7 linked regions of the Homo sapiens genome follow. The protein of the gene in region 1 purifies or fractionates together with the protein of each later gene. This does not show direct contact. Each region holds a gene or a part of one and is shown in the gene's direction. Other genes may lie near its edges. The genes, in order: PTCHD3, SLC12A6, CYP51A1, ADCK2, ABCB9, ST7L and TAP2.

What was found.
Region 2: the proteins of PTCHD3 (region 1) and SLC12A6 purify together in Homo sapiens (affinity purification with mass spectrometry; one large-scale study listed by BioGRID and IntAct). This does not show direct contact.
Region 3: the proteins of PTCHD3 (region 1) and CYP51A1 purify together in Homo sapiens (affinity purification with mass spectrometry; one large-scale study listed by BioGRID and IntAct). This does not show direct contact.
Region 4: the proteins of PTCHD3 (region 1) and ADCK2 purify together in Homo sapiens (affinity purification with mass spectrometry; one large-scale study listed by BioGRID and IntAct). This does not show direct contact.
Region 5: the proteins of PTCHD3 (region 1) and ABCB9 purify together in Homo sapiens (affinity purification with mass spectrometry; one large-scale study listed by BioGRID and IntAct). This does not show direct contact.
Region 6: the proteins of PTCHD3 (region 1) and ST7L purify together in Homo sapiens (affinity purification with mass spectrometry; one large-scale study listed by BioGRID and IntAct). This does not show direct contact.
Region 7: the proteins of PTCHD3 (region 1) and TAP2 purify together in Homo sapiens (affinity purification with mass spectrometry; one large-scale study listed by BioGRID and IntAct). This does not show direct contact.

What each region holds. Positions count from the first base shown.
Region 1 is NC_000010.11:27,407,514-27,411,658, reverse strand, and holds part of PTCHD3 (patched domain-containing protein 3), read left to right. Parts: intron 1-4,145. UniProt on the Homo sapiens protein: May play a role in sperm development or sperm function. However, does not appear to have an essential role in spermatogenesis or male fertility.
Region 2 is NC_000015.10:34,334,622-34,339,507, reverse strand, and holds the start of SLC12A6 (solute carrier family 12 member 6), read left to right. Parts: upstream 1-1,726; 5' UTR 1,727-2,176; intron 2,177-2,491; exon of another isoform or gene 2,492-2,755; 5' UTR 2,756-2,827; coding exon 2,828-3,098; intron 3,099-4,886.
Region 3 is NC_000007.14:92,127,748-92,131,892, reverse strand, and holds part of CYP51A1 (lanosterol 14-alpha demethylase), read left to right. Parts: intron 1-20; coding exon 21-119; intron 120-2,836; coding exon 2,837-3,013; intron 3,014-4,145. UniProt on the Homo sapiens protein: Sterol 14alpha-demethylase that plays a critical role in the cholesterol biosynthesis pathway, being cholesterol the major sterol component in mammalian membranes as well as a precursor for bile acid and steroid hormone synthesis.
Region 4 is NC_000007.14:140,692,494-140,695,971, forward strand, and holds the end of ADCK2 (uncharacterized aarF domain-containing protein kinase 2), read left to right. Parts: intron 1-2,169; coding exon 2,170-2,310; 3' UTR 2,311-2,617; downstream 2,618-3,478. UniProt on the Homo sapiens protein: The function of this protein is not yet clear. It is not known if it has protein kinase activity and what type of substrate it would phosphorylate (Ser, Thr or Tyr).
Region 5 is NC_000012.12:122,963,303-122,968,038, reverse strand, and holds the start of ABCB9 (ABC-type oligopeptide transporter ABCB9), read left to right. Parts: upstream 1-1,575; 5' UTR 1,576-1,752; intron 1,753-4,736. UniProt on the Homo sapiens protein: ATP-dependent low-affinity peptide transporter which translocates a broad spectrum of peptides from the cytosol to the lysosomal lumen for degradation.
Region 6 is NC_000001.11:112,525,142-112,528,641, reverse strand, and holds part of ST7L (suppressor of tumorigenicity 7 protein-like), read left to right. Parts: exon of another isoform or gene 1-2,530; coding exon 2,531-2,629; 3' UTR 2,630-3,500.
Region 7 is NC_000006.12:32,824,915-32,829,105, reverse strand, and holds the end of TAP2 (antigen peptide transporter 2), read left to right. Parts: intron 1-71; coding exon 72-200; 3' UTR 201-3,691; downstream 3,692-4,191. UniProt on the Homo sapiens protein: ABC transporter associated with antigen processing. In complex with TAP1 mediates unidirectional translocation of peptide antigens from cytosol to endoplasmic reticulum (ER) for loading onto MHC class I (MHCI) molecules.

The sequences.
Region 1 (4,145 bases):
TGCAACCATCACAATGATCTGTTTTCAAATATTTTGCATCATCCCAAACAAGAACTCTGTTAACATTTTGCAATAAATTCCCCATCACCACCACCACCCCCAACCCAGTGCCAGTTAACTTTAATCTACTTTGTCTCTGTGAATTTTCCTCAAGATTTCATATAGTGGAATCATATATTTATCTTTTTGTGACTGGCTCATTTCACTAGGCATAATATTTTCAAGGTTCATCCTTGTAGCGTGTATCAGAACTCCATTGCTTTTTATGGCTGAATAATACTGATTCCTTCAACTTTGTTGTTCTTCAAGATTATATAGATCATCCTAGACTCCTTGCAATTCCATATGAATTTTAGAATCAGCTTCTCTATTTCTGGGGGGGAAATGGTTGTTGGAATTTTGATGGGGATTGTGTTGAATCTGCAGATTGTTTTGAGTAGGACTGGCATTTTAAAAATATTGAGTCTGCCAACCCAGGAACTAAGGATCTTTCCATTTATCCAGGTCTTTTTAAGTTTCTTTTACCAATGTTTGCTGGTTTTCGGTGTGCAGATCCTTCACCTCCTTGGTTAAAATTATTCTTAGGTGTTTCATTCATTTAGAGCTATTTAAATAGAATTGCTTTCTTAATTTCCTTTTTGGGTTGTTCACTGCCTATGTATAGAAACACAACTAATTTTTTGGTGTTGCTCTTATATCCTGAAGCTGCGCTGAATTTGTTAACTCTAGTAGTTTTCTTCTGGATTCTTTGGTATTTTTCATATATACAATCATGTGATCTCTGAGGAGGGAGAGTTATATTTCTTCCCTTCCAATTTAGATGCTTTTTATTTTTTTTTTAATCTAATTGCTCTGGCTAGAACTTCCAGTACAACATCGCATATCAATGGGGAAAGTGGGAGTCTTTTCTGTCTTGTTTCTGATCTGATCTGATCTTAGAGGAAAGCTTTCATTCTTTCACCCTTGAGTATGATGTTAGTTTTACTATTTTTATAAATGCCTTTATTATTTTGAGGAATTTTCCTTCATATTCCTAGTTTTTTAGTGTTTTTATTATGAAAGGGTATTGGATTTTGTCAAGTGCCTTTTAAACATCTAGTGAGATGAACATGTGGTTATTGTCCTTTGTTCTATAAATATGGTATGTTACATTGACTGACTTTCTCCCGATGACCTTTCTGGGATAAATCCCAGCTGGCTATGATGTATAATCCTTTTAATACGTTTTGGATTGGACTTACTAGTATTTGTTTATGACTTTTGCACCTATATTCATGAGAGCTATTGGTTTGTAGTTTTCTTTTCTTATGATGTCATTGTCTGGTATTGTGTCAGTGTAATGATGGTCTCCCAGAGTGAGTTAGGAAATATTTCCTCGTCTTCAATTTTTTGGAAGAGTTTGAGAAGGATTCCTGTTACCTCCACTTTAGATGTTTGGTAGAATTCATCAGTGAAATCTGGTCCTGGACTTTTCTTTATTGGGAGTTTTTTTATTACTGGTTTAATCTTTTGTTATAGGCCTTGAGATTTTCTATTTCACCTTAAGTCAGTTTAGGTCATTTGTGTTTTTGTAGGAATTCATGCATTTCATCTAGGTTATCCAGTTTGTTGACATACAGTTTTTGATAATATTCTCTTATAAACTTTTCTATTTCTATAAGGTCAGTAGTAACGTCTCCGCTTTCATGTCAGCTTAAGTTATTTGTGTCTTCTCTTTTTCTTCGTGACACTAGGTAAAATTTAGTCAATTTTGTTGATATTTTCAAGTAACCAACTTTTGGATTGATTCATTCTATTGTTTTTCTATTCTGTATTCACCTCTGTTCTAATCTTTATTCTTTCCTTCCTTCTTCCTGTGGCCTGAATGTTTGTGTCCTCCCAAAATTCCTATGTGGAAACCTAATTCCTGGTGTGATAGTAATATGAGGTGGGGCCTTTGAGAGGTGATTAGAATGGGATTGATACTCTTAAAAATAATTCCGAGGGAGCTTATTAGCCCCTTCTACCATGTAAGGACATAGCAAGAAGGCACCATCTGTGGAGCAAAGAGCAAATCCTCACTGGACACCAAATCTTTGGCCCTGACCTTGGCTTTCTCAGCCTCTAGTACTGTAAGGAGCAATTTTCTGTTGTTTATAAGTTTCTCAGTCTAAGATATTTTGTTACAGTGGGCAGAACAGACTAACACACCTCTGTTAGCTTTGGGTTTGGTTTCCCTCCTTTCCCTAGATCCACAAGTTGTTATTGATTTGAAATCCTTTTTCTTTTTAATGTGGGTATTTAGCTATAAATTTCCCTCTGAGCACTATTATCACTGTATCTCATAAGTTATGGTATGTTGTGTGTTCATTTTCATTCTTAACTAAGTATTTTCTAATGTCTCTTGATTGTTTAATAGTGTATTGTTACATTTTTGTAGATTTGTTAATATTCCAGTTTTCCTATTATTGATTTTTAGCTTTATTCTATTGTTGGTTAGAAAAACGTACACTGTATAACTTCAATCATTTAAAATTTATTTAGACTTGTTTTACAGCTGAATGTATGATCTATCCTGGAGAATGTTCCATGGGCACTAGAGAAGAATGTATATTTTGCTGTCATTGGGTTGAGTCTTCTATATAATTCTGTAGGGTCTAATTGGTTTGTAGTGTTGTTCATTTCTCTATGTCCTTATTGATATTCTTCTCAGATGTTTCATGCATTGATGAAAGTGGTATATTGCATTCTCCAGTTTTTTTTCTTTTTTTTTTTTTTTTTTTTTTTGAGACAGAGTCTCACTCTGTCACCCAGGCAGAAGTGTAATGACACAATCTTGCCTCACTGTAACCTGTGCCTCCCAGGTTCAAGAAATTCTTCTGCTTCAGCCTCCTGAGTAGCTAGGATTACAGGTGTATATCACCATGCTCACCTGATTTTTGTATTTTTAGTAGAGATGGGGTTTCACCATGTTGACCAGGCTTGTCTCGAACTCCTGACCTCAAGTGATCCACCCACCTCAGCCTTCCAAAGTGCTGAAATTATAGGTGTAAGTCACCACGCCTAGTCCTCTCCAGCTATTATTGTAGAGCGCTCTATCTCCCCCTTCACTTCTGTCAATATTTACTTCATATATTTTGGGTATCTGTTATGCAGTACACATATGTTTACAGTTGTTATAGCTTCTTGGGGAATTGGCCCGTTTATCAATATATAATGTACTCCTTTGTCTCTAAGTCTGTTTTGCCTGATGTTAGTGTAGCCATTCCTGCTCTATTTTGGTTACTATTTGTGTAGAGTATCCTTTTATGTACTTTCAATCTACTTATATTTTTGGCAATAAAGTAAGTCTGTAAACAGCATATAGTTAGATCATGTTGTTTTATCCATTCTGCCAACCTGTCTTTTGATTGGAGAGTTTAATCTATTTACATTTAAGGTAATTGCTGACAAGAAAGAACTTGTAACATTTTTAAATTTATGTTCTATCTGTCTTATAACTTTTTTGTCCTTCATTTCCTCTATTATGCTTTCTTTTCTTCACATTTCTTTTTTCTTTTCAGACAGGGTCTTTTCCTGTTGCCCAGGCTGCTGTGGAGTGGCACAATCATAACTGACTGCAGCCTTGAACTCCTAAACTCAAGCAATCCTCCCACCTCAGCCTCCTGAGTAGCTGGAACTACAGGCACATGCCATCACATCTGGCTAATTTTTATTATTTTTTGTAGAGACAGGATCTTGCTGTGTTGCCTAGGCTGGTCTTGAACTCCTAGCCTCAAGTGATCCTCTCACCTCAACCTCCCAAAGTGGTGGGATTACACTGTGAGCCACCCCCATTGGTGCGTGCAGCATGAGCTACTATGCCTAGCCACATTTCAATTTTTTTTTTTTTTTTTGAGACGGAATCTCACTCTGTAGCCCAGGCTGGAGTGCAGTGGCACGATCTCGGCTCACTGCAAGCTCCACCTCCTGGGTTCACGCCATTCTCCTGCCTCAGCCTCCTGAGTAGCTGCGATTACAGGCGTGCGCCACCATGCCCAGCTAATTTTCATATACAATATTTTTTGAGTAAAATCTGCTCTGCCCCCTCCAGATCCAGTGAAACACTCTCACACTGGGAACTCAGGCTGTGACCACTTTATACTGCTGCTGCTTTGAGACTATGG
Region 2 (4,886 bases), on another chromosome or scaffold:
TAACAGGGATAGTATATTGGAATTAGGTGGTACATATAAGTAAATGCAGATACACTGGTAGGAAATTGGGTTTCATAAAAATTCTGTGTTTCTTTATAAAGGAAAAGTCTGAAGTTTGAATGAACGGCAGGCCTGCCTGAGGAAAAAATTGATCCTGCTGAGGATGGATGAAAGCTGTGGGCCTGAATCAAGAAACCCAGACTTTATAAAGAGTCAAACTTTAGGAGGTTTACACTTTACATTAGGATTTCTCATTTTGTTACCAGGATCTTTTTAACCTTTTTGATCCTTTAATCCTTGAAAGGATTTGGACTTTGTGTGTCATTTGATAAAAGAGAACTTCCGGGAATACAGTTCCCATTGCTAGGAGTGCTGCTTAAACATAACCACTTGTGAGGAGCCAAGACCCCAGGCAAAACCGGGGGCCAGTTTCTGGGCCCAGGTGATTGTTAAATTTAGAGGTCTTGATCACAGCTATAGGAAATAGCTTTTCAAACAAAACATTGGTGAGTCAGAATTTATCGAACACCACCATTTATACATTAAATAAACACTAAGAAAAAATATTCTAGCGACAAATGTAGTGGTGAAAACATGGAATGGATTTGAGAAAATACATCAACGTCTTCTCCAGGTATAAAAAAACGTATTATTTAGTGGAACTTTCAGTCTGACTAGAAAGTGGACATAGCATTTATTAAAAGGACAAGAACAACAACAAAAAATTAAAGTAGGACAAATGTGTTTAAGGTACTTTATAGTTTTATTTTTATTTATTTATTTCTTTGAGACGGAGTTTTGCTCTTGTCCCCCCAGGCTGGAATGCAATGGTGCGTTCTCGGCTCACTGCAACCTCCGCCTCCCAAGCTCAAGCGATTCTCCTGCCTCAGTCTAAGGAATAGCTGGGATTACAGGCACACGCCACCACGCCCGGCTAATTTTTGAATTTTTGGTAGAGACGGGGTTTCGCTATGCTGGCCAGGCTGGTCTGGAACTCCTGAGCTCAGGTGATCGATCACGCCCGCCTCAGCCTCCCAAAGTGCTAGGATTACAGTCGTGAACCACCGCGCCAGGCCTACTTTATAGTTTTAATTTTTTTTTTTTACATAAAAGTGGTTTATTTGTATGTAGACCTCTACATAAAAATTACAATGAGGGTTATTCCCAGGTATAGGAGCGGTGTTTCTGGTTAAAGAAATCATGAATGATGTTTTCAGAGACACTCATGAAAGAGAAATGGCTCCCCGGGTTCTGAGGGTGAGGAGCAGCGCCCGCCCTCTAGGATGCTTCCAGAGTGAGTGTGCAGCACAGCCGGACCGAGGAAAAGGATTATTCCCCTCTTCACGCGGGTCGGGCCGTGCCCTGGACTACAGCTCCCGTCGTGCCCCTGGCCACTCGTATTCGGCCCCGCCCCGCCTGCCGTGTCCCGCGGCGAGCGCAGGCGCGCTGCACTCGGTCACCGCGGGCTGCGGCGGCTGGGCGGGGCTTTCGGGCGCCCGCGGGACGGTTCCGCCCTCTCACTGCACCCCCGGGCTTCTCTTCGCAAGGTTCACCTCGAATGAGGAACAAGCGGGGAGGGAAGGGAAGGGCTGCGGCGGCGCGGGCGCACCCCGTCGGGCCCGGGGCTGGGGGAGGCCAGGTCACGTAACTGCTGCTCTGGCGTCGGGCCGGGGAGGGGGCGCCAGCCCCGGCAGCGCGAACCCTGCGCGCGCCGCGGCTCTGAAACAGTTACCGGCTAGTAAACAACAGCTGCGCGCGCACCCGCATCAGCTGGCGCCGGGATACTGCACCTGCGACCTCCTTCTCCCTCACCCTGCTGCCCAGTCAGGCCAGCCTGCGTGGCCGTCTCCTCCTCTACTGGGACCCTGAGGAAGAACGACGAGGGGGTGACCTGCGCCGGGGCGGGGGTAGGGGAGAACGCGCCTCCGGCAAAGGGGGTGGCTCGTCCTGTCACACGCAGGAGAAACCTAGCGAGCGGACCGTGGCTCAGTGGACTAGCTACGACTTGCCACGACTCTGAGCTGCAGTCCGAGGTGTCTTGATCCGCTAACCTCCTCCCAGACCCCGAGGACCTTTCTGCTAGGAGAAGAGCGGGCGCGCCACCCCCACCGACCTCTCGGAGACAGGAATCCGCTCTGCCCCTGCATCCTCCTCTGCTCACCCTTCTCTCAGTAGTGTGGGTTATTTTTCCCGTTATGCATGTGCACCTTTCCCACCAGACCCAAGTGGATTGTCGACATCAAAAACACCGGGTGGCTTTGCATACACCTCCCCCCAGCCAGACCTGTGGGGTATTCACCTGATACACAACAGGTGGCCGGGTGTACACCTTTTAGCAATCTGATCCACGCTATAGTCGCCTGATAAAGGTTTGCCTGCACGCACTTCGCCCAACTAGAACCGTGGGACACTCACCAGATAAAGGACTACCTCGACAGGAAACTGGGGGCTGAGGGGAGGGAGGCTTCATCTGCTGCCCTGAGACCATGGCACTGAGCCTTCAGCCCCGGACCAGAGGGGTTAGCTAGGTAGCTCTTCATTCTGAAGGAAAGAAGTCACACAAGATTGGCATTGTTTTGTCTTTTTGTTTTTTGTTTTTTTCTCTCTTAAAAAATATATTCACCTATTGGTGATGCACTTTCTAGGACAGTCGGCTTGAATTCTGAGTAGAAGTATTCTTAGTTGGGGCTTTTTGTGTGGTGTGAATCAAGGTTATTGAAATGTGTTATTTTTCAAGTTATCTTTTGTATTGCAGTCAAAAGTAGCTAGCGTAAGAGGAAGATTTTGCGAGGTTCCCCCCACTTTTTTTGTTCTTAAAAAGAACAAAATGCATCCTCCAGAAACCACCACCAAGATGGCTTCAGTTCGGTTCATGGTGACACCGACAAAGATCGATGACATTCCAGGTTTGTCAGACACCAGTCCGGACCTCAGCTCTCGATCTAGTTCCCGAGTAAGATTTAGCTCCCGGGAAAGCGTGCCTGAAACAAGCCGGAGTGAGCCTATGAGTGAGATGTCTGGGGCCACCACTTCGCTGGCAACTGTTGCACTGGATCCACCCAGTGACCGGACTTCTCACCCCCAGGATGTCATCGAGGGTAAGTAGAAACACAGACCGCAGCATACTTTCATTACTGGGTTCTTTATCCAAGATGACCATCTATGGATCTGGAAGATCATAATCATATAATTATGATTATAATAGTCATCAGGAACCAAGGCATCTCTTTGTGAGATGCTTAGGAACTCTTTGGAATAATAGCATAGTGGCTCTTTGCAGTAGTAATTTGGTATGTGGGAAGGTGTATGACAAGAAGGAAGGCAAATGTATATTTTAACTTCCTCATTTTTGTCTTCTTAGAAATGAAATGGGTATTTTGGTTAAAAGTGAATATCAAAGAATGTAATCGTTTTCAGCACACAGAATCCTAAATTTTAAAATTTAGTGAGTTGGATATGTGTTCTGTAGCCATCATTGGCTATTTCAGTCTGCTTTAAGACTGGTTTCATGGAGTAGTTACTGGTCGTATCTTAGCAGCTTTCCTCCAAGACTTCGAATGTGTATTGCAAAATTCTTTTTTGAAATCTGTATTTTTATGGAGACCTTGACACAAGTAGCTAAGCCCACTCAGGGTGATGGTGGGTAGACCTAATGTGCTATTCTGTCAAATGGAAGACTTCTGAAAAGGCTTTTAGGGCCTGATTCCCATGTAATTTATTCTCTCTGAGCTTTAGATGGAAAGTCTGATGATTAGAGTTAGCAGGTAGCACACAAGCCACTCCTGGCTCATGTTGACTGCTACAGACCTTTAGCTTCCTAAACCAGTTTGTGTGTGTCAGCTGGCTTGGTTTTATTTGAGGTACTGGGAAGAGGTGATGGAAGAGAGAGAAGAGAGAAAATGGGGAGATCATAACATTTTTTGGACTCTGAAATTTAAAAGTTTGAGACCTGTACTGCTTTATATATTTAGTTTTATGCTGTGTTGTAACTAATGTAATCTTTTAATGATAAAAATTTCCCTTAAAGACTCTTAAAATAATATTCCACCCAAGTTTGAAAACCATAGCCTCACCCACTGACTTGTGAAAGCAAGGCTTACTCACCATTTTCCGGTGTCAGGAAATATTGTTCCTTTTAACCTAAAGGGTTCAGGAAACCAGAATGATTTTAGTTCCCTAATTCTGTTTGTGTTTTTAGTATCTGGAGACAAGGTAGATTTGGTAAAGTTTACAGTCCTAGAATTCACTCATCCTTGACTAATCATTTTTTCTTTTATGGAGACATAGGTTGGTTCTCAGACTTTACTGTTTTCAACTTTTTGACAAATTTTACAGTGTGTCATACACTGGATTAAAATTACAGTATGGAATACAAATTTATCATTTCCTCTTCCTCCAAATTAATTCCAAATTGTGGTTTTAGTTTTTATCCATCATGCTGTATTTAGGTTGTAAAAATTCCAGGTAAAGACTATACCAGTGTTAATTTCTTAATATTGTAATTATCATTAGGTAATTTATAGTTTAGTTTGTTAGACTTGTGACTTACATGTTACAGAATTGTATTTTTATTCTTTGGAAAAGTGGACTTAGTAATGTGTTAGACCAGCAGAACAGGTTCCTTGTCCAGTCTGCGGTTCTTACGTTACCCTTAAGCATTCTTTACAGTCTAAAGTGGTATCCTTTTACACTATAGGGGTAAAAATGGGACTACAGGGGTAAAAATGGGGACATATCTAAGTGAAATTTATGTTTGTTTACGTGGTTACAGATGTTAAAAGCTTGGTTCTCTATATAACACATTCCTTACTTAATGTTTAAATATTCTCCGGTACCCAGATGAAAGGGAAATTAATAGTCTGGCCATTAGAGAGGACTTTGCCCTA
Region 3 (4,145 bases), on another chromosome or scaffold:
ACTATTTTTTTCTCTTGTAGAAAAGTCCTCCATACATTTTCTCCCCAATTCCATTCCTTGGGCATGCCATAGCATTTGGGAAAAGTCCAATTGAATTTCTAGAAAATGCATATGAGAAGGTAAGTCTTCCAAATAATTAGAGGAAAAAAAAAAAAACAACTAGAGAAGTGCTTTTTAAACTTTTTTAAAAAAGTGGCAGAACATTTAAAAACATTGTAATCATATACATATCCTCAGTATAGGAAACAAAATGGAAACTGCTCTGGTTTAAGAGATGGTGTCTTATAGATACCTATCCTTTTAGCTTTTCCCATGTCCTGGGGTCGTCTTTGAGACACCATTGAGGAAACCTGTAGTTCTGGCAACTATGGTTTAAAAGCCACTGTTCTGAGTTTTCTATTCACTTATTGTCATTAAAATTGATATTAATTAACCCTCATTTTTCTTTACCATGCATCTGTGGGGTTTTCTAACCTGCTCTATACATCTTCTGTGATTTCACTGTCCACTTGAATGACCCACATGACACCATAGCTACTCAATTATTTGCCCGTCTTCTCTCTAATGAGCTTCCCTGTGCCAGTTAAGCCATTTACTTCACAGTCTCGCTTTGGACTTGTCACTCTTAACTGTTTCACTTCCACAATATTAATTTAGATATCCTATTCGTAGACCATACCGTCTCCTGGTTTGCTTGTGCAACTCCTTAAATTATAACTATTCTTTGACCTCATTGGATCTTGCATTCCATTTACTTTCTCCTGATCCATCAGCCTTCATTCTTCACTTTCCTCTTTCCGCTTTGGGTCCATGGCATGTCGTTTCTGTTACACTCTTGGCAATACTGTACTTTAAATTTCCTCGACCCCGCATCTTTTCATTGTGTTCAGCTGGCAGAAGTCACCCTTGGAGGCAGCCAGTTATTGTCTCCTTCTGCACCAGATTAGTTTCTTCCTGATTTTATGATTGCCTACCTTAATGATATTTGAACACTGCTCCACAGTCCTATTATGTTCTTGTGATTGGGCCTACTTTTCCACTCATTACAGTGACTAATTCAAACCTTCACTTTTCTAAACTTCTGAATCTTTCTACCTCTCCATCAAAGCAGATGATTTTTTCTCCTGTTTAGGAGACAATGATTAAAAACGTTGATTTAGGAGACAATTATTAAAACATTCAAAGAAAACTTCCTCATTTTCTCAATTTCAAATATGCAAACCTACTTGTATTTATATAGTAATCCTATTCTCTTTCTTCCTATCACAGTAATAATTATCAAACACTTACTTTATGCCAGTACTTAGTGCTTTACAAAGATCATCTCACTGAAGCTCCACAAAAACCCTTTCAGGTATATTTGTTTTATAGATGACAAAACTGAGAAGCAGAGAGGATATATAATTTCTTCTTGGACTCACTGCTAGACAGTGGCCAAGCCAGGATTTACACATGGTCTGATTTCTGAGCCTATACTTTTATTAATGATAACAATAATGGAAAACAAGTCATTAAGATGCTAAGTAAGCCAAGGTACTCTTCTCTGCCCTGTATATAAAATTTGGCAGCAGCTCTGTGAAGAACTGCTATTATTATTATTACCATTTTATAGGTGAGAGAAACGAAACACAGAGAGACTAAGTTCTCTGACTATAGGACCAAAGTCATACAGCAAGTAGGTGGAGGAGCTGGGATTTGAACACGGACAGTCTGGCTCACTGCGTTCTACCACTTTGATTTTATTACAACTATATTTTGCCTCTTATCGGAGGCTGAACTCTCCATCCCTCTTTTGTCTCAGGAACTTTTTACTTTTATTTGTTTTCTCAGTGTATTGTTGACTTCTTTTTCAATGGCATCTTTCCTTTTTCTCTGAAAAATTCTTGTCACCCGTTTAAAAACTTCCTCAAAATGGCTTATGAGGCTCTGTATGGTCTAGCACTGCCTAATGCTCAACTCTCATCTCCTCCTTTCTCTTTCTCTTACTTTTAGGGCCTTTGTGTATGTTTAGCTACCAAACCAGCTCCTCATTCTTCTGGTCTCAACCTAGTTGTCTTTTCCTCTATTAGGTCTCCCTTTTTTAGATTCTCTCATCACAGAGTTGCTTTCCTTTCTGTAATACTTGTCACATTTGCAGTTTTATGTTTGTTAATGTGATTATTTGATTAATTTGTATTTTTTCCAATAGACTAAGCTTGGTGAGTTGGGACAGTATTTTTTTTCATGATTATACCCCCAGAGTCTAGTCTTCAATCATAACCAGAAAACTGCAAGGGAAAGTATTTAACATCTAACCAAATTAATATAAAATAAAAAATGAAGTCATTTAGTGTAGGTGAGATAGTGCTAAAATAGATAAATAAACTTGTAGTGTCTTCACATAGCAGGTACTATAGAAAAGGTCAAATTCTTTGGCTAGTCTTGTAAAATTTGTTTTTAACCAAAGGGGGAAGAAGTCTATATTTTCAGAGGTGTTCATCACAGAATTAGCTGTAATAACTAAAGAAAACCCTGACATATCACCCATATGTCCAATAATGAAAGAGTAGTCAGTAAATTAACATTGTGATGTTTATATAGACAATAGAAAACATTGTCAATATAAACTGAAAAAAGCATAATAAACAGTTATATTTATACTACATTTGCAACTAAATGAACATAATTATAAATTTGGACAAAGGAAGGAGGAGTATGGCAAGATGAAAAGAATTGCTTTAAGGTTTATATATGTTTTTATTTTTTTAATAATGCATTATTTTGTGATTTTAAAAAGTTACTGTCGTAGTGTTGCATATTTTTTGTAACATCACTATATGTACTTTTCTCTTTTTAGTATGGACCTGTATTTAGTTTTACCATGGTAGGCAAGACATTTACTTACCTTCTGGGGAGTGATGCTGCTGCACTGCTTTTTAATAGTAAAAATGAAGACCTGAATGCAGAAGATGTCTACAGTCGCCTGACAACACCTGTGTTTGGGAAGGGAGTTGCATACGATGTGCCTAATCCAGTAGGTGACACTGTTACCATAAATAAAGACAAATCTATACCTCAGTAGTTATAGCTAATAGTGAGACATTATACATTTAAAATGTAGAAACAGCCAGGCATGGTGGCTCATTCCTGTAATCCCAGCACTTTGGGAGGCCAAGGTGGGTGGATCACTCAAAGTCAGGAGTTCAAGACCAGCCTGGCCAACATGGTGAAACCCTGTCTCTACTAAAAATACAAAAATTAGCTGGGTGGGGCTGGTGGTGCACACCTGTAAATTCCAGCTACTTGGGAGGCTGAGGCATGAGAATCGCTTGAACCCAGGAGGCGGAGGTTGCAGTGAGCCGAGATCACAACACTGCACTTTAGCCTTGGCAACAGAGTGAGACCCTGTCTCAAAAACAGAAACAAAAAACCAAACACACACACACACACGCACGCGCACACACACACACACACACACACACACAGAAACCAACCAAACAAAAATGTAATAAAATGTAGAACCAGTTTATTCCTTGGTTCAAAAGTCTGAAGAATCATGAGAAGAAAGGCCATGGATAACTGATAAGTAATGGGTATTTAGTTTTATATTTGCTGTCATGGCTAAACAATATTAAAGGGCTTCCTGTACAAATAATGGAATCAATGATAACTTAGCATACTGGGATTTAATTTGAAAGGGTTATTAGACAATGCTGTTACTTCATCAAAAGGACTTCCTGCCTACCCATTCCTGCCTGAAATTCTAACATAAGCGCTGTTTAGAGATTGCTGACTTCAGAAGTCCTCTTTTAATGCAACAACTTCACGTGTGGGGTACATCTATGTGTATGTTTTACCCTCAAAAGCCAAATACGAAATTGTTTTAAGTTGATATAGAACACAAATCAGACAATTGGCCCCAATGCTTGGTATGGGCTCTGGCTGTGAATGTAACACACATTAGCCAGTACCCTAGTATAGCAGTTAAGAGTTAACATTAAATCTTGTTTCTAGTGATGGGGAATGAGGGAATGAATGCCTCTCCTTAAGGCCAAAAAACAGGGCCCTGGAAAATCCCTCTGTTCAGATATATATATTCATTTAGACTCTATTCATTTAGAGTCAGATAGATCTATTCATTTAGACTCTTAAAATGTAAATGCCCA
Region 4 (3,478 bases), on another chromosome or scaffold:
ATTACAGGCAAGTGCCACCATGCCCAGCTAATTTTTGTATTTTTAGTAAGAGATAGGGTTTCGTCATGTTGGCCAGGCTGGTCTCGAACTCCTGACCTCAAGTGATCCACCTGCCTTGGCCTCCCGAAGTGCTGCGATGACAGGCGTGAGCCACCGCGCTTGGCCTGTTATTCTGTTGATGCTGTTGATGTTCACGTGGGTTGCTTCCACTTCTTGGTTATAGTGAATAATGCTGCAGTGAACATGAATGTGTAAATATCTTTTCAAGATCCTACTTTCAAATTTTAGAAAAGTTTTAAAAACATTTAATGTAGCCAGTAAGGTCTATACATTGTGTTCTTGCTTTCCAGTTTTTAAACATATGCCCCAAAGTAGGTTTTCTGGATCATATGGTATGTTTTTAGTTTTTGAGGAACTTCCATAGGAGCTGTACCATTTTATATGCCCACCAACAGTACACAAGGGGTCGTTTCTCTCATCCTCACCAACACTTGTCATTTTCTGTTTTGTTTTTAGTGGCCATCCTAATGGGTGTGAGGTGATGTCTCATTGTGGTTTTGATTGCATTTCTCTACTGATTCATGATGTTGAACATCTTTTCATATGCCAATTGGCCATTTGTATAATATATCTTCCTTAGAAGAAATATCTATTCAGGTAGCACTTAATTTTTTTAAATAAAGTATTTGACAGTAACACAGAGATAAAGGAATCTAATCCACACTAAGAACCCCCCACCCAGCTTCAGAATGAAAGCATTCCCAGAGGTGTTAGAGCCCTGGGTTCCCACCCGGACCAGAGCCTGTGTGGCCAATCTGCCAGGCTGGAACTCCACAAGCTGCTCCTGGGAGCATGCTGCTGCTTCTGGATCCACCTGACCCCGACAACCTTCCAGCCCTTAACGGAGACAAATACTCTTTAATTTCTAACAAAGAATATTTCCCATGATTCAACCTTCCATTTCTTGACCTTCTGTCCACTTAAAAAGCAGATTCCTGTTCTTCTAGGTTTACATCTGGCTCTATTCCTCCTCACTCAGTGGCCTTGAGCAAGTCATTGAACCTCTCTGAGCCACAGCTTCTTTCTCTATAGAATGGGGATAACGATGATACTTTTGAAGAATAGTTGAAGAATCCATGTCAATTGCTATTACTACTAATCTGGCTCTGAAGGGACAGCTGTACCCTGTTTGAGCAGTCAATTGTGTGTTGTCTCTGATTTTTTTTATTTTTTTGAGATGGAGTTTCACTCTGTTGCCCAGGCTGGAGTGCAGTGGAGCCATCCTGGCTCACTGCAAGCTCTGCCTCCCGAGTTCAGGCCATTCTCCTGCCTCAGCCTCCCGAGTAGCTGAGACCACAGGCGCCTGCCACCATGCCCGGCTGATTTTTTGTATTTTTAGTAGAGGCAGGGTTTCACTGTGTCAGCCAGGATGGTCTCGATCTCCTGACCTCATGATCCGCCCGCCTCGGTCTCCCAAAGGGCTGGGATTACAGGAGTGAGCCACCACGCCCGGCCTGTGTGTTGTCTCTTAAAAAGGCTATTGTAGACCAGCTGACATGGCTCCTGCCTATAATCCCAGCACTTGGGGCAGCCAAGGTGGGAGGATTGCTTGGGGCCAGGAGTTCGAGATCAGCCTCGTCAACATTGCAAGACCCTCTGTTTACAAAAAAGAGTCCCAGTCTCAGGAGGCTGAGGCAGAAGGATCCCTGAAGTCCAGGAGCTCAAGGCTGCAGTGAGCTATGATCTTGCCATTGCACTCCAGCCTAGGTGACAGAGTGAGACCCTGTCTCTAAAATAAATAAATAAATACATACATACATAAAGGTTACTGTAGGTTTCGAAGAATTACCTGTATTTAAATGTATAGTTTCTGGGATGTGTGTGAAAGATTTATTTGGTCATTCATTCATACACACATGGACACAAACCTAGAAAAGTATATTCCGCACCCCTAGATTTTTCCTTAGTGTGTCCAGTAGATGGGAGGCTGGGCGAGTAGGTGAGATGGTTGGGGAGATGACGCGGTAGAGAAGAGAATGTCAGGTAGATGGTAAACATCCCGTGGGCAGGTCTGAGGGAGGCTGAGAGTGGACAGCAAGGTGATTATCCAGAACACACGTCCCTGTATCAGCATGTTCTGAGATGAACTGTTCTGTTTTTCTGTTCCAGGTAAAGCTTGAGAGCAACTTTGCCTCCATTGTGTTTGCCATCATGGTGTTGGAGGGGCTTGGCCGCTCACTGGACCCCAAACTGGACATCCTGGAGGCAGCGAGGCCCTTCCTCCTCACGGGCCCAGTGTGCCCCCCGTGATGGGGCAGTGGCCTCTGTGGGCCCTTGTCAAGAGCTGGAGGCCACTCCCAAGAGCCTCTCCTATGGCAGCTGGGACGTTTTAAAATTGGGACACCAATTTCAAATGTAACCCTCCAGTGGTGGAAGGCACACCATGGCTTCCTCTGCTTGGTTTGAGGGTCTGTTCAAAAGCTTTGGGCCAATTAGGGAGTAAAAGGAGGGAAGGGGCCTATCCATTCCATTGTGGAAGCTGGGCCAGGTGCCAGGGACACTCTCCTTCAGGGAAAATGTTATGTGGAGGAGGACGAATAAATTTATTTTGTTTTCCTGTTTTTCTCATTTCTTGACCCGCTATACTCCCTGGTCAGATGGGTACTGCTGGTAGTTCCCAGACTTTGATATTCAGGTTAGAAAATGCCATCAAGTCCTACTGATCTGTGGCATGTGCACACACACACACACACACACACACTCTTTATGTATAAATATCATGCAGGTGCTACCTGCCAGCATAATATACACTTAGGGCAAATTTCATTGTACTTCAAATTATCTTCTTGGTAATTTTTAATAGATTTTGCTAACTCCTTGGTAACTTTTATTACAAGGTAAAACAAAACTGATGAAAGTGGCTGACATACCGGGGACGTGAGCAGAACGGCTTGGCCACTTCCTTAACATGGCCCCGGGTTCACCCGCTAGTCCGGAACTACAGTTTCTCTGCCACAGTGTCTGCGCCTGTCCACTTGCAGGCATTAATTTTGGTGAATATGAAGAGAGTTAATATAACCAGTGTGTCCTCTTCTCCATGGCAGCGCCCAGGGACAGACCTGCAGTGACCACCACCTGCCCCTCTCTGCCAGGCCCAACCACGGGCTTTCTTCTCAGAGCTGAGCTGATGTGGCCGTCTGGCTGACTAGGAGGGGCCCGGGGTCAGCCTGGAGGGGGGGTATTTGTAAAGCTTAATTTCTCTTTTTTTTTTTTTTTAGGTAAAATCACAGTTTATCCCTGCACCTTCATAGATTATGTTGCTCGTCTTAGAGACCACCAGGCAGCGAATGGAGTCAAGCCCTTGCGCTCTCCGAGAGTCCTGCCCTGACTACAGGACTAGTTTCTCCCATTCTTTCCTTCTCCAGGATAAAGTTCCTCATTCCTGTCTTTTAGTGAGCAGTATGGTTTAGGTGGACAG
Region 5 (4,736 bases), on another chromosome or scaffold:
CTAATTATTTGGCCAGTTCCCTATGGAAGGGTATTTAGGTTATTTCCAGACTTTTGCTACTGTAGTAACTACCTTTAAGCTAGTACCTTAGCTCCCTTGCACAAGTCTATCTGTAGAGGAAATTCCTTCTGGGTTAAAAAAAAACATAGTGTTGTAAGTTCTGAACAAATTCCCCTCTAAAGAAGCTGTCCCACCAAGTAGCAGAGGACATTTCCAATTCAGAGAGTGCTCCAAAAAGCCTCTGTTCAGGGCTGGGCACACATGGCTCACGACTCTAATCCCAGCAGTTTGGAAGGCCAAGGAGGGCAGATCACTTGAGGTCAGGAGTTTGAGACCAGCCTGGCCAACATGGCTAAACCCCATCTCTACTAAAAATACAAAAATTAGCCAGGCGTGGTAGCGGACACCTGTAATCCCATCTACCTGGGAAGCTGAGGCAGGAGAATCACTTGAAGCTGGGAAGCAGAGGCTGCAGTGAGCTGAGAACTCGCCACTGCACTCCATCCTGGAGTCTCTGTCTCAGGAAAAAACAAAGCCTCTGATCAGAGGATCCAGGGATGTGGGCAGTTCTAGCCCCACCTGCTGCCCCTCTGGGCCGTAAGTCCACTCCCCCACCCACTTCCCACGGTTCAGGCCACATGGACCCTTTTCTGGTCCTCAAGTGGCCAAGTTGGTTCCCACCTCAGAGCCTTTGAACTTGCAGGCCTTAGCGTAGGATGTTCCTCCCTCCCCGTGGCTCACGCCTTCTCACCTTTCACTTACACAATTTTATTTATTTTACTGCATCCAGTACCTGAATGGCCTTATGCACTTACTTGCTGATGTTCTGTCCCCTTCACGCCATGAAGGCTGGGAGTTTTCTGTCTTTTCACACACAGCTGTGTTCCCAGCACCTGGCAGTCACTGAGGACATATCGCTGCCTCCCCTCTCCAATGCCCCGAATCCCTGATCTTGCACCAATTTTCTCCGTAAAATGTATTCCCTTCCAATATATCTCATTTGCTTATATGTGTTGTCTGACACCCTCACTAGAATGTCAGCTCCAGAAGGGCAAGGATCTTGTTTTGTTAATTGTTTAATTTCAAATGCTTAAAAGGGCATATGGCACGCCGTAGGCACTGGATAAATATCTGTTGGGTGAACGAATGAAAGAATAAGTGAATGAATGAGGACCATAACCCACCCTCCTGGACTGGCTGGCTGTCCCTCCAGGGAAAAAGGCCAGTTAAAAAGCTGGCCTCCTTCAGGTGAAACCATTTCCGTCCCCTCAGGATGGGCCCGTGGCTCCAGGTGGAGGCCAGCACGCAGTGTGGAGGGCCTGGTTGGCCAGATGTGGGAGGAGTTTGCCACAGGTGAGCAGGTGGCCAGCTGTGGCCCCGCCCCCAGGAGGCCCGTCCCCACCCGGAGGCTTCGCCAGCCCCCTCCTCGGGGGCCCCGCCCCGTCCAGGAAAGCCCGCCCACTCCTCCTGAGGCCCCGCCCCTCCCGGGAGGCTCCGCCGGTCCCTGCCCCAGGATCCCCGCCCCCTCCGTCACTGAGGCCCCGCCCCGTCCATCAGCCTGTCTCAACGCACGCCAGTCTCAGCTCCGACCTTGCAGCGGCGCAGCGCGGGTGGGAGGCGGGGAGGAGCAGCGGGAAGAGCGGAGCGAGGACCGCGTCCGGCGCAGTCTTCAATGAGCAGCGCGGAAACTGCACCCCAGACCCGAGCCTGCTGCGCGCCCCCTCCCAGAGCTCACCTGGTGCCAGGTAACAGGTAAGGGCAAGGCACCCTAGACCCCTGGTTTTGGGACCTTTCCAGGCCAGGGTGCCAGGCCAGGCACGCGTTGGGGGGCGTCTGGGCACCCCTGCCTCGGTGGGAATAGGCATCTCGGTTGAAGGTGGGAGCCTCCCTGGAGCCCTCCCGGAGCCCGCAGCCGCAGCTCCCAGCCCCCATCCCTGCAGCATCCTTTCCGCGCCCGTAGGGCGAATGTTGCCATTTTTTTTAACCCCCAAGGCGCCGCTGCCTCTTGGAAAATGTGGGAGGTGTTGGAGGATCCTGGGATGGCTGTCGTTCCCCCAGGACGGGGCTGGCGCGCCTTCTGAGGGCTCCCACTGTCCATGTCAGGGCTTCCCAGGGATCCTGAGCACCAGGGCTTTGGCAGAAGCCTGGGGGATCTGGCCTGTTCCTGCTGACCTGGGCAAAGCCCTTTTCTCAGTCTCCTCAGCAGGCCAGTGGGCTGCCGCTGCTCCCCGCCATCCACGCTGGCAGTGAGGCCTGTAGGTTCCCAGGGGAGCCTCTTTTATTTCTGGGCCTCTGGAAAAAAAAAAAAAGCCTCCTCCCCCGGCCTGACATTAACTGAGACAGCTTTAAGCTGGGCTGACAGGATCCCCGCCTCTGCCCATTCCCCTTTTCCGGATAGTGCAGGGCCGGGTGACAAGAGGAGGCTTGGAGGGAGGGCACCTCGCGCCTCTCTGCCTCTCCTAGAGCTGAGAGCACCTGAGACAGCTTCTCAAGTCCCAGAGTGAGGCTGGGCCCCACGTGGGCTGCCAGAGGCTCAGCAGGGATGAAATCAGGATGGACCCACGCAGACCCAGCCCGCTCCTGCCCCAGAGCCAGGGACCCCCACAGTCAGGCCCTCCCACCCAGCAGGCCTCTGTCAGTCAGTGCTTTGCTGCGCAGCGAATGGAATGGGCTTATCTGGGTCTGGGCCCACACCGGGGTAAAAAGCTCACCATGTCAGGGGTGAACCGAGGCCACTGGGCCACCCAAGTTCTTTGGCCCCTTTTCTTGCAATCCCTGAATAGCCTGGACAGGGGACCCCCGAGTCTCCATCCTGGAGACCCTGGATGCGGGTCTCCATCCTGCCTTCGTCCTTTTTCTGCGTGTCACTTAACCTCTTCTGTCTCCCCAGCTGTAAAACGAAGCTGATGACCACAGGGTCCTCCCAGGGAAGTGGGGAGGCCTGGCTGCTTTGGGAGGTGCCAGGCACATAGTAGGGCCCGGTGAAGGGTCTCTGTTGCAGTGTCATAATAACTTTTATCTATTGTCTCCTGGCCTTCTCTGCAAAGGGTCTCTGTTGCAGCGTCATAATAACTGCTATCTATCGTCTTCTGGCCTTCTCTGCAGCTGATGCCTAGAGATACCCCAACCAATGTCTCCTACCCTGGGAAGAAAAGCCTTTGACAAGACCCCTGGTGGGGACAAGGCCACTTGCTTATCCTGTGCCATTCTTTAGTGCACGGAGTCAGGGCGAGCCACCCCTGTCTTCCTGGGCCTTGTCCGGTTCTGGGTGGGGCCTATTCTGGCCACCACCTTGTCCTTGTCCCTCAGGCCAAGCAGGTCACCCATGTGCTCACAATTTGCCCTCCAGCTCCACCTGGCCGAGCCCAGCGCATCCTCTGAGTCAGGCAGTTGGAGAGCGGTGACAGGCCTCTAAGCAGCCTTGGCTGGTGGTCACGCTTCTGCCCAGTAGCTTTAAAAATAACGGAGTAACTGTCCCCACCGAGGACTGTAACCCGACCCGGGGCTGGAGTCCACTCTGCTAGGAGTCTGTGGTAGAAGGACTAGTGCTTGGGGGCAGGGACCCAGGTGCTAGCACTGCTCTGCCCCAGCCTGGTGGATGACCTGAGACAAGCCTCACCCCCTCCCTCTGTGGGCCTCAGTTTCCCCATCTGCAAAATGTGGCTTTGGTAGTCTGCGATATGAGTGTTTGAAATTTTGTTTATTCTGATGAAGATAAATAGGCTTCTGGAGGCGGGGGGCATGACTGGTACCCTGGGCTGTTGGGGGATGGGGAAGGAATTCCCCCAGAGGCTGGGAGTCAGGTTGGGAGAGTCAGCCAAGCCCCTGGGCTGCTGTCCAGGTTTTGAGTCTCTTGCGGATCTGCCTCCTGTTCCACTTCTGAGCCCGAGCCCCTTTCTGGGGACTGAGGGACCCCATGTGCCCACCACGAGGAGAGCAGCAGCTGAGGCGGCTGGCAGCACCTGGTGCAGCCGGCAGTGGCTTGGCTGGGAGGCCTGGAATGGCACCAGGCCAGGAGCTTCCCTCCCTGGGCTCTGACTGGAGCTCACCCACTCGCTCGCTCCCCACGGCCTCTGCATTGCAGCAGACAGGAGCCTGCGTGGGCAGCACAGGCAGGGCTGGGGAGGGAGCCAGGACCTGGGCTGAGGGTGTCCGACCATCCTACCCACTTCCCCTTGCCCTTGACCCTGCTTGGCCCTGACCGTCTTTGGAGGGGCAGCTGCTGACTAAGCAACTGTCATCTCTGCGATGGGCTTCGGTGTGCCTGGAGGTGTGGGGGTGAAAGCAGGGCCCAGGCTTGGAGGTTGTTATATCCCCCCACTCCATTCCCCCTCTGCATCTCAGACCCCTTCTCAGCATTAGTAGGGGTTGTGCCTACCTCCTGGAGAGGCTGTTTTGAAGGGTTGGAGCTATGGAGTTGAGAGTACAGATTTTGGAACTGGACGGCCAGGGTTCACATCCCAGCTTGTGACCCAACTCTGTGGGTCACCTAGCTCTGTGACCCAGGGCAGGTCACTTAATCTCTCTGTTCCTCAGTTTTCCTAACTGTAAAATGGGGATAATGATAGGACCTACTTCATAGGGCTCTGGTGAGTGCTGACGCATGTAAGTGCCTGGAGCCAATGTCAGCTGGCACCAGCTGCTGTCATTGCCAGCAATTAGCCTCAGCAGTCTTATCACCTCTGCCACACGGCCCAGCCCTCTGCTGGGGACCCTTTTCCTTAGATGAACACTTC
Region 6 (3,500 bases), on another chromosome or scaffold:
CTGGGCCTGTAAGCCTACATTAATGTATCACAGTACTGGATAGGATATTTGATATCTCTTACTTAGCCCAGAATCTCAAATGATAAGGAGCTGTAGTTAATGATATGTAGCATTTTGTTGAACTTTACAGTGTAGATCTCTGTTAGTCCCTGGGTCTGTAACAAATGGACTCATCCTTGTGCTTTTCCATAGGTGCCCTGATGTTTACTGACATAAATCAAGATACTATGTGGCTCTATAGGGGATGCTGAACCATTTGACAGTCTAGGTGCACACAGTCACCTCACATTATTTAAGCCCTGATCTCAGCATTCTAATTTCTCTGTATTCCCCAGTGTATATAATGTGTACTTGCTTGAAATTCCTTATATATTGCTTGTACATTCCTGCTTCTAAGTTTCAGCACATACCAGTTCCCTCTATTTAGAATGCCTTCTTCTGACTGCCCTCAGTCAGTTCATAAAACACATAAAGCTATCTTTTAAAAATTCAACTCAAAAGTCACCTCCTGTGGAATGCCATCTCTGCTTAATCTCATTAACCTAATTCCTTTATTCTCAGACTTCTGCTTCCTAGTCCATTAAACTGTTTCATTTTATTGTAATTGTTGCTTCTGTATATTGTCACCCAGTAAGCATAATTATTCTAGGAATGATCATCTTCCTCCAGCCTCTTGTGTCTACTTATTACACACAAATATTTTGAAGGCCTATTGATGACCTTTTCAGTTTCCCCAGAGTTCCAGTTCACCTTCCTTACTGTTTCCTTTTACTTCATAGTTACATTCCTAAAGAAGCAGCGCATGTGTTCAGGGTTGGCCTCCACCTCAGCATGTGTGTGGCAGCCTGCTGAATAGATCCCTACAATTGGGAAGGAGTTAACCCTCTAGCTTGACAATCTCTGCATTCTACTTAGACACCTTCAAGAAGTAGATGTGAGACCAGGAGTAGACCTGAAAATGGGAGTAGGTAAATTTCCACGGAAAGCCAAGTTAGCTTTTTCCTTCCTTTATACACAAGACCTATGAAGCTGCTGTCATCAGCAGCTCATTCAACACTCTCCTGCTCTGCCTCTTTTCCAGGAGTCAGGGTTAGTTTAAGAAAAAGCCTCTTGCAAGAAGCCATGACCTCGTACTTTTATCCCCTCCATCTGGTGTGTGGCCTCATGGGGCTGTGCTGCTATGCAGGAGGTGAGCAATGGAATTCTTTAGATGATGACTTCTGAGCCCACATGCAGAGGCAGTTGGGGGTGGGAAGCAGGGAGAACAGTGAGAGCCAAGATCGATGGACCAAAAAATAAAGTCTGCCTTGGGGAAGTCCTGACTATAGGTAGACTGTTTTCATGAGGTGTTCTTCTCCTAGCTCAAGTAGGGGCCCAGGTCAGGGAGCTGCAGCATCCCAGAGCTATGATTGATGAACATTGTACTTTTCCCTTCTGTCTTAACAGTTGGGGTGCAGGATTAGGATAGGTAGCCTATGCTGTCTCTAACAGAAAACATTACAGGATTGAACAGAAGAGTTCCCCTTGCATACGTCATCTTTTGGAGCTGCTCTTACTCACTGTCTTGCGCCTAAACAGAGGTCCAGATTTTGGATGGGAAAACAAAGAGGGGTTGAGAGCAGCAAGTGTTTGATCAAGTGAAAATCTGCTGTCTGCCTCATCTCATGGGTTTCTCTGCAGGATTGAGACCCCTTGCCTTGGTGTACACAAATTGCTTGCATCAGCTTGAGATCCCAGGACCTTTGCCAGGCCACGGGTAGGCATCTGTCTGGCTTGGGATGGGAGTTTCTTAGGACACTTATTCCCTCATCTTGCTTTCCTAACCCAGGAGTTGACGTCATTTTTAAAAGGAGTGAAATCTCAAAGAAAATTCTAATACATACCTTCTTTTTTTTTTTTTTTGTGACGGAGTCTCGCTCTGTCTCCCAGGCTGGAGTGCAGTGGTGCATCTTGGCTCACTGCAAGCTCTGCCTCCTGGGTTCACGCCATTCTCCTGCCTCAGCCTCCCCAGTAGCTGGGACTACAGGCGCCCGCCACCAGGCCCGGCTAATTTTTTTGTATTTTTAGTAGAGACAGGGTTTCACCGTGTTAGCCAGGATGGTCTCAATCTCCTGACCTCGTGATCTGCCCCACCTCGGCCTCCCAAAGTGCTGGGATTACAGGCATGAGCCACTGCACCCGGCCTCTGATACATATTTTCAAAGCCTTAATAATTTTCTGTCATGACTACTTCTACTGTGTCTATACATTTAGCATAATTTCAAAAGGACTAGATAAAATTTTTAATGTTAATCTGAAGGGGAAAAAAGGAGTAGAATTAGGAGCCAGAGTTGTTTAAATGTGGAATATGTTGTATAGTGGTCACATGGTACTGGTGGTAATAGTGGCAGAAATGGCAAAAGAGCCATTGGTTGATAAGGTTCAGGAGGGCCTAGGCTGTTCCTTTGTAAACTGTGCTCAGATATACTCTCTTGGCTGTCCTGGGACTCCTACAGGGCTTGAACATTTTGTATCAATTTCTGTTTTGAAGGTGCTGGGACTCTGGTGCCCCCAACCCTGGGCATCCTCAGGCTTTGAGGAGAATACACAGGATTTGAAGTCAGAAGACCTAGGTTTGAGTTCTGGCTGAGCCACGCACTGTTCATGTGACCTTGGACAAATCACCAAATTTTTCTGAACAGCATCTGTAAAGTGACAGTAACCCCTACCTCACAGGGTTGTTGTGAGGATTACATATATGCTAAAGCATTTTGCATATGAAAAAGCTTCTTATGAATATTGTTATTCCTAGGCAAACCCCCCTTGGAAGCTGTCAAAAAGGACAACTGTAGATGAAATTGTCTTCCTTTTTTCTTCATTCAGCTTAGCCTTTCTGTTTGGCCAGGGCTACTTACAGGGGCTGTTGGGGTTGAAGTCAAGTCACCGCATTTTGGCTCCTTTGGTCAAAGAGAAAGAACTCTAATGTCCAGCTGCTCCATCGATATACTCATAGAATGGAAGTGAGCAAAGGAAAATTTTAAGCCAGGATAGTTAACCGTTAGGGGGCCAGTGGGAGAATGCTTGCCTTGCATTTGCACATCCAGAATGACTAAAACATCTTAAGTAAATGAGGAATAGCCACCGAGATGCTCAGAGATAATATAAGCCATGAGTGGGAAGTGGGAAAATGAGTTTGTCAACGCCCTCTCTTTTCTATCCCTTTACCTTTGAGGTCAGGGACAGGGCATATTACTGACACCCCACTGGCTATTGCCCTATACCTGCCAATCACCCAAAGAAAATAATAGCTTCTGAGAAAGCTCAATTCACTGTAGCAACTGTGATATATTTACCCTAATAAAGCCACCACTTGGTCTTTTCCAGTGCTTCTCTCTTATGGAGATCATCCCTGGAATCCAAAGCTCTCCAGTTTTCTAACCCAGTTAAGAGTTAAAAACAACCACAGGTCATGAGCAGTAGGCTTGGCAGTTATACCCCATGCAGTCATAGGAGACTGCTCC
Region 7 (4,191 bases), on another chromosome or scaffold:
AGATGGTGCCCAGGTGGATGTGGTGTCCATCTCATTCCTGTCTTTCTGAGGCACTGTGATCACCCCTTCAGCTGCAGGACTGGAATTCCCGTGGGGATCGCACAGTGCTGGTGATTGCTCACAGGCTGCAGACAGTTCAGCGCGCCCACCAGATCCTGGTGCTCCAGGAGGGCAAGCTGCAGAAGCTTGCCCAGCTCTAGGAGGGACAGGACCTCTATTCCCGCCTGGTGCAGCAGCGGCTGATGGACTGAGGCCCCAGGGATACTGGGCCCTCTTCTCAGGGGCGTCTCCAGGACCCAGAGCTGTTCCTGCTTTGAGTTTCCCTAGAGCTGTGCGGCCAGATAGCTGTTCCTGAGTTGCAGGCACGATGGAGATTTGGACACTGTGTGCTTTTGGTGGGGTAGAGAGGTGGGGTGGGGTGGGGTGGGGGCTGTCTGTGTCCAGGAAACTTAATTCCCTGGTGACTAGAGCTTTGCCTGGTGATGAGGAGTATTTTGTGGCATAATACATATATTTTAAAATATTTTCCTTCTTACATGAACTGTATACATTCATATAGAAAATTTAGACAATATAAAAAAGTACAAAGAAGAAAAGTAAAAGTACCCATTGTTTCACTTCCTGGAGATAACCATAGTTGCTATTTTGCTGCCTGTCCCATCAGTCGTTTATCTGTTGTTTGAGATAGAAATTAACCAAAAATGACATAAATATTCATGAGATTGCCTTCCTATATCCTTCCTTGTTCCTACCAGTGTCTGCTATTTTGAAGAAGCTAGGGTCTGGAGGGACAGAGAACAGTTCCCTGATTAACAGTATTAATAGCGACATTGGTAACAGCTACCATTTATAGAGTTTTAATGGGAGTAGGAGCTATGCTAAGTGTTTTTCATGTATTATCGTTTTTAATCATTATCCCCAACCCTATGAGGTTGGTTATTATCCCCATTTTACAGATGAGGAAACTGAAGCTCAAAGAGGCTCAATGACTTTCCCAAGGTGGTCGTAGTGGTGGAGTTGGAGTTTGAACACAGGCCTGACCCTAGAGTCCACACCCTGACCCAATCAATTATATTGCATCTTGGGTCCATAAACCCTAATCCATAATCCCATCAAGAAAAGCTCTGCTGCTCTTAGCTCTAAATAATTCAGAATCTATTCTCTTCTCTCCAGTCCCGTTGTTATAGTCTTCACTCATAGACTTAAGATGATCCCATCACCAGAGAGGTTTCTCTACCATTAGCTTCCCTCTTCCGGCCATTCTTCACAAAGTCATTTTTCTAAATTCTGTGTCACATACGATGATGGCATTTCTGGAAATTCCTTCAGGTGCTCTCAAGCCCTGCTGCAGAGATCCTTTTCAGAGCACACACTGTTCCAGCCCATCTGTCTCACCCTCTCCTGTTGTATCCAGCTCCACGACAAACTTCTGCCTTCCCCAACACCTTTGTGCCTTTGCATATGGTGTTTTCTTGCCCATTTTCTGCTCGACTCGCCCCTGATTTTCAAGTTCAAGACTTAACTCAGGGTTCAGGTCTTCCAGGAGGCCTTACTTATGTCGTCAGTCTGGGGAACTCTCCATGTGCTTCTATCACTGTGCGGTTACCTCTTTCACAGCCCTTTTAAAGTTCTATCTTCCCTTTCCCACCTTTTTTGACCTTCCACTAGACCATGAGCACCTGGGCGGAAAGCCATATATCTTATTAAGCTTTATATCTGCTACCTGGCCGAGGGCCTAATTCATAGTGGAGAATAAATAGTCAATTGAATAAATGAATAAATATCTCCACCATCGTACTAATCTTAATCCTCCCTGCCCACTCCCACCACTGAAAATGCAACATTGTACACATCACTGGTTGTTGGGAGGGACTTACCTTGGAAAGTTGCTATTCTAGGAAAGAGAAACCTTCATATTCCTGGAAACAGCAGGTAGTTTCCAGTGCTGGCAATGAATTCCCCAGAACTGCTGTTTTGGATTTTTTCTTGCCTGGCAGCTGTTGGGAGCAGGGTGCAGTGAGGATGGGGTGAGAGTGGGCAGTTTCTTGTGCAGATTTGCCTTTCTTTCATCCTGGGGCTGACTTGCAGCTCCACACCCATCCATCTCTCAAATTTCACAGAGGGTAAAATAGGCATTTGGAGAGAAAGAACTCTGGCCTGATTCCTTTCTCTCCCACAAATGTCCTTTATTCATAAAACAGGAATAATAATTCCTGTATCTCCCAACTACATGGAAGCTGCAGCCCTCACAGAAGAAGATGATCTGAGAAATTCTTTGATTTCCTCAGTACAGTTATACCCATGCATCATAATACTTTAAGCCTGGAAGGCATCTTAAAAATAATGCAACAGTCAAACCTAATTTTACAGAGAAACTGACATGAAATCACGCAGCTAATCATGATAAAGCTGGGTGGAAAACTTATCTTGATGGGCAGTACAGGAAGATGCAGTAGACCTTAAGATGTCCTGAAAGTTTCTTATCTCAGGGGAAACTCCCAGGTAGGCTTTATGTCAGGGACACAGAAAAATGCTCCCTGAAAGTCAAAATATTCGGGCTAGACAGACAAATTCCTGTAAGTGTGGTTTGTCTGGGAACCACAGATGTCACTAATCCTGGTTTGCTCCAGAGTTCTTTTTGTTCACTCCTACCCCCCATCACCATTTGATTGATCTCCTTACCCTGTAATTTCCCCTTCTTGTCGCTTACCTGCAGTATCTTTCCCACCCAGGCATGCCTTATTCTTTCTAAAGGAAAGTATGAATGGAGAGGGGAAAGCTTGGGAAACTGATAGATTTCCTTGGATGCCAAAACACCTCCATAGCCTGTCTGCCCGGCCCTATGTGGAAACAGCATTGAGTTTCAAGTCCTTTATGCCTCCACCCAGGGATAGCCACTTGTAATCCACATGGCAATTGTGAAACAAGCAGGAAATGCGTAATTGTCAGAATTTTGTGGGGAAAGGACTAGGGAATAAGGAAAACAAAGATCTTCCTTGTGTTTTAGAGCTGTCAGCTAGAGGAGCACCTGCTTGAGTCTGATGCCATCTAATGGTCCCAGAAGAAACTGGGTTTTGAACCTAGAGTTCCATGGACTCTTAGGAATTAGACTACTACTACTACTAAGCATTCACTGGTGCTTACTATGTGCTATTGCTGTGCCAAGTATCTGAAACCTGTCTTCTTACCTTATTTTTCAAGATAATTCTATGTGGCAGGTATTACTATCTCAATTCTAAGAGTGAGAAAATGGAGTTTTAGAAACATTTACTAACTTGCCTGGGTCACATAGCTAAGGAAGAGGTGGACTTGCCCAGCTTTGCATAAAACTCCTCAAAAGAGTTGCCTATACTCCCTGACTCCACTTATCTTCCTACTATCCTCTTTTTAAAATATATTATTTATTTATTTAAATAAGCAATATATGAATGTGGTTTGAAATTCAAAAGACACAAAGAAGTATACAGAGGAAAGCCTCACTCTCAATCCTTCTCAAGGTTTGCTAATTCCTCTTGCATAGGCAATCCGTTCTTCCAGCTTTGTGTTTATCTTTCCAGAGAAGTTTACTGTGTATTAAGCAAATATGTATATCTTTATTCTTGCTCAGTATTTTCGCAAACAGCAGCTGTCTAAGTTCACTGTTCTGAACTTTATTTTTTAAATTAAAAATATATGGCTATGTAGTATTCTATTTTATGGAAGTTCCATATTTCATTTATCCTGTTTCCTTCTACTGATGGCTAGTTAGGTTATTGGAAGTCTTTTGCTGTTGCTAGTTAGTCTTGTATAGACATTGTAATGCACATGTGCAAAAATACAAGTATGATACAATCTTAAAGGGGAGTTGCTGAGTCCAATATATACATTACAAATATTGATAGATATTGCAAAATTGCCTTCATAGAGGCTATATTAATTTATAGTTCCAGCAGCAACATATGAGTTTATCTGTTTCTCCATATATATATATATGTATATAACCAACAGACAGTGTTAATTTTTAAAATTTTGACAATCTTCTGGGTGAAAGTAGCATTGTATTGTAGTTATCATTTGCTTTTTAATATTATCATGTAAGTAACAGAGATACTAAACCCAGAAGGATAAGGGAGCAAAGATGAGAAAAATAAACACACACACAAACAACAATAACAAATCTGTCTAAAATATTGGAAAATCAGAATGAGAAAT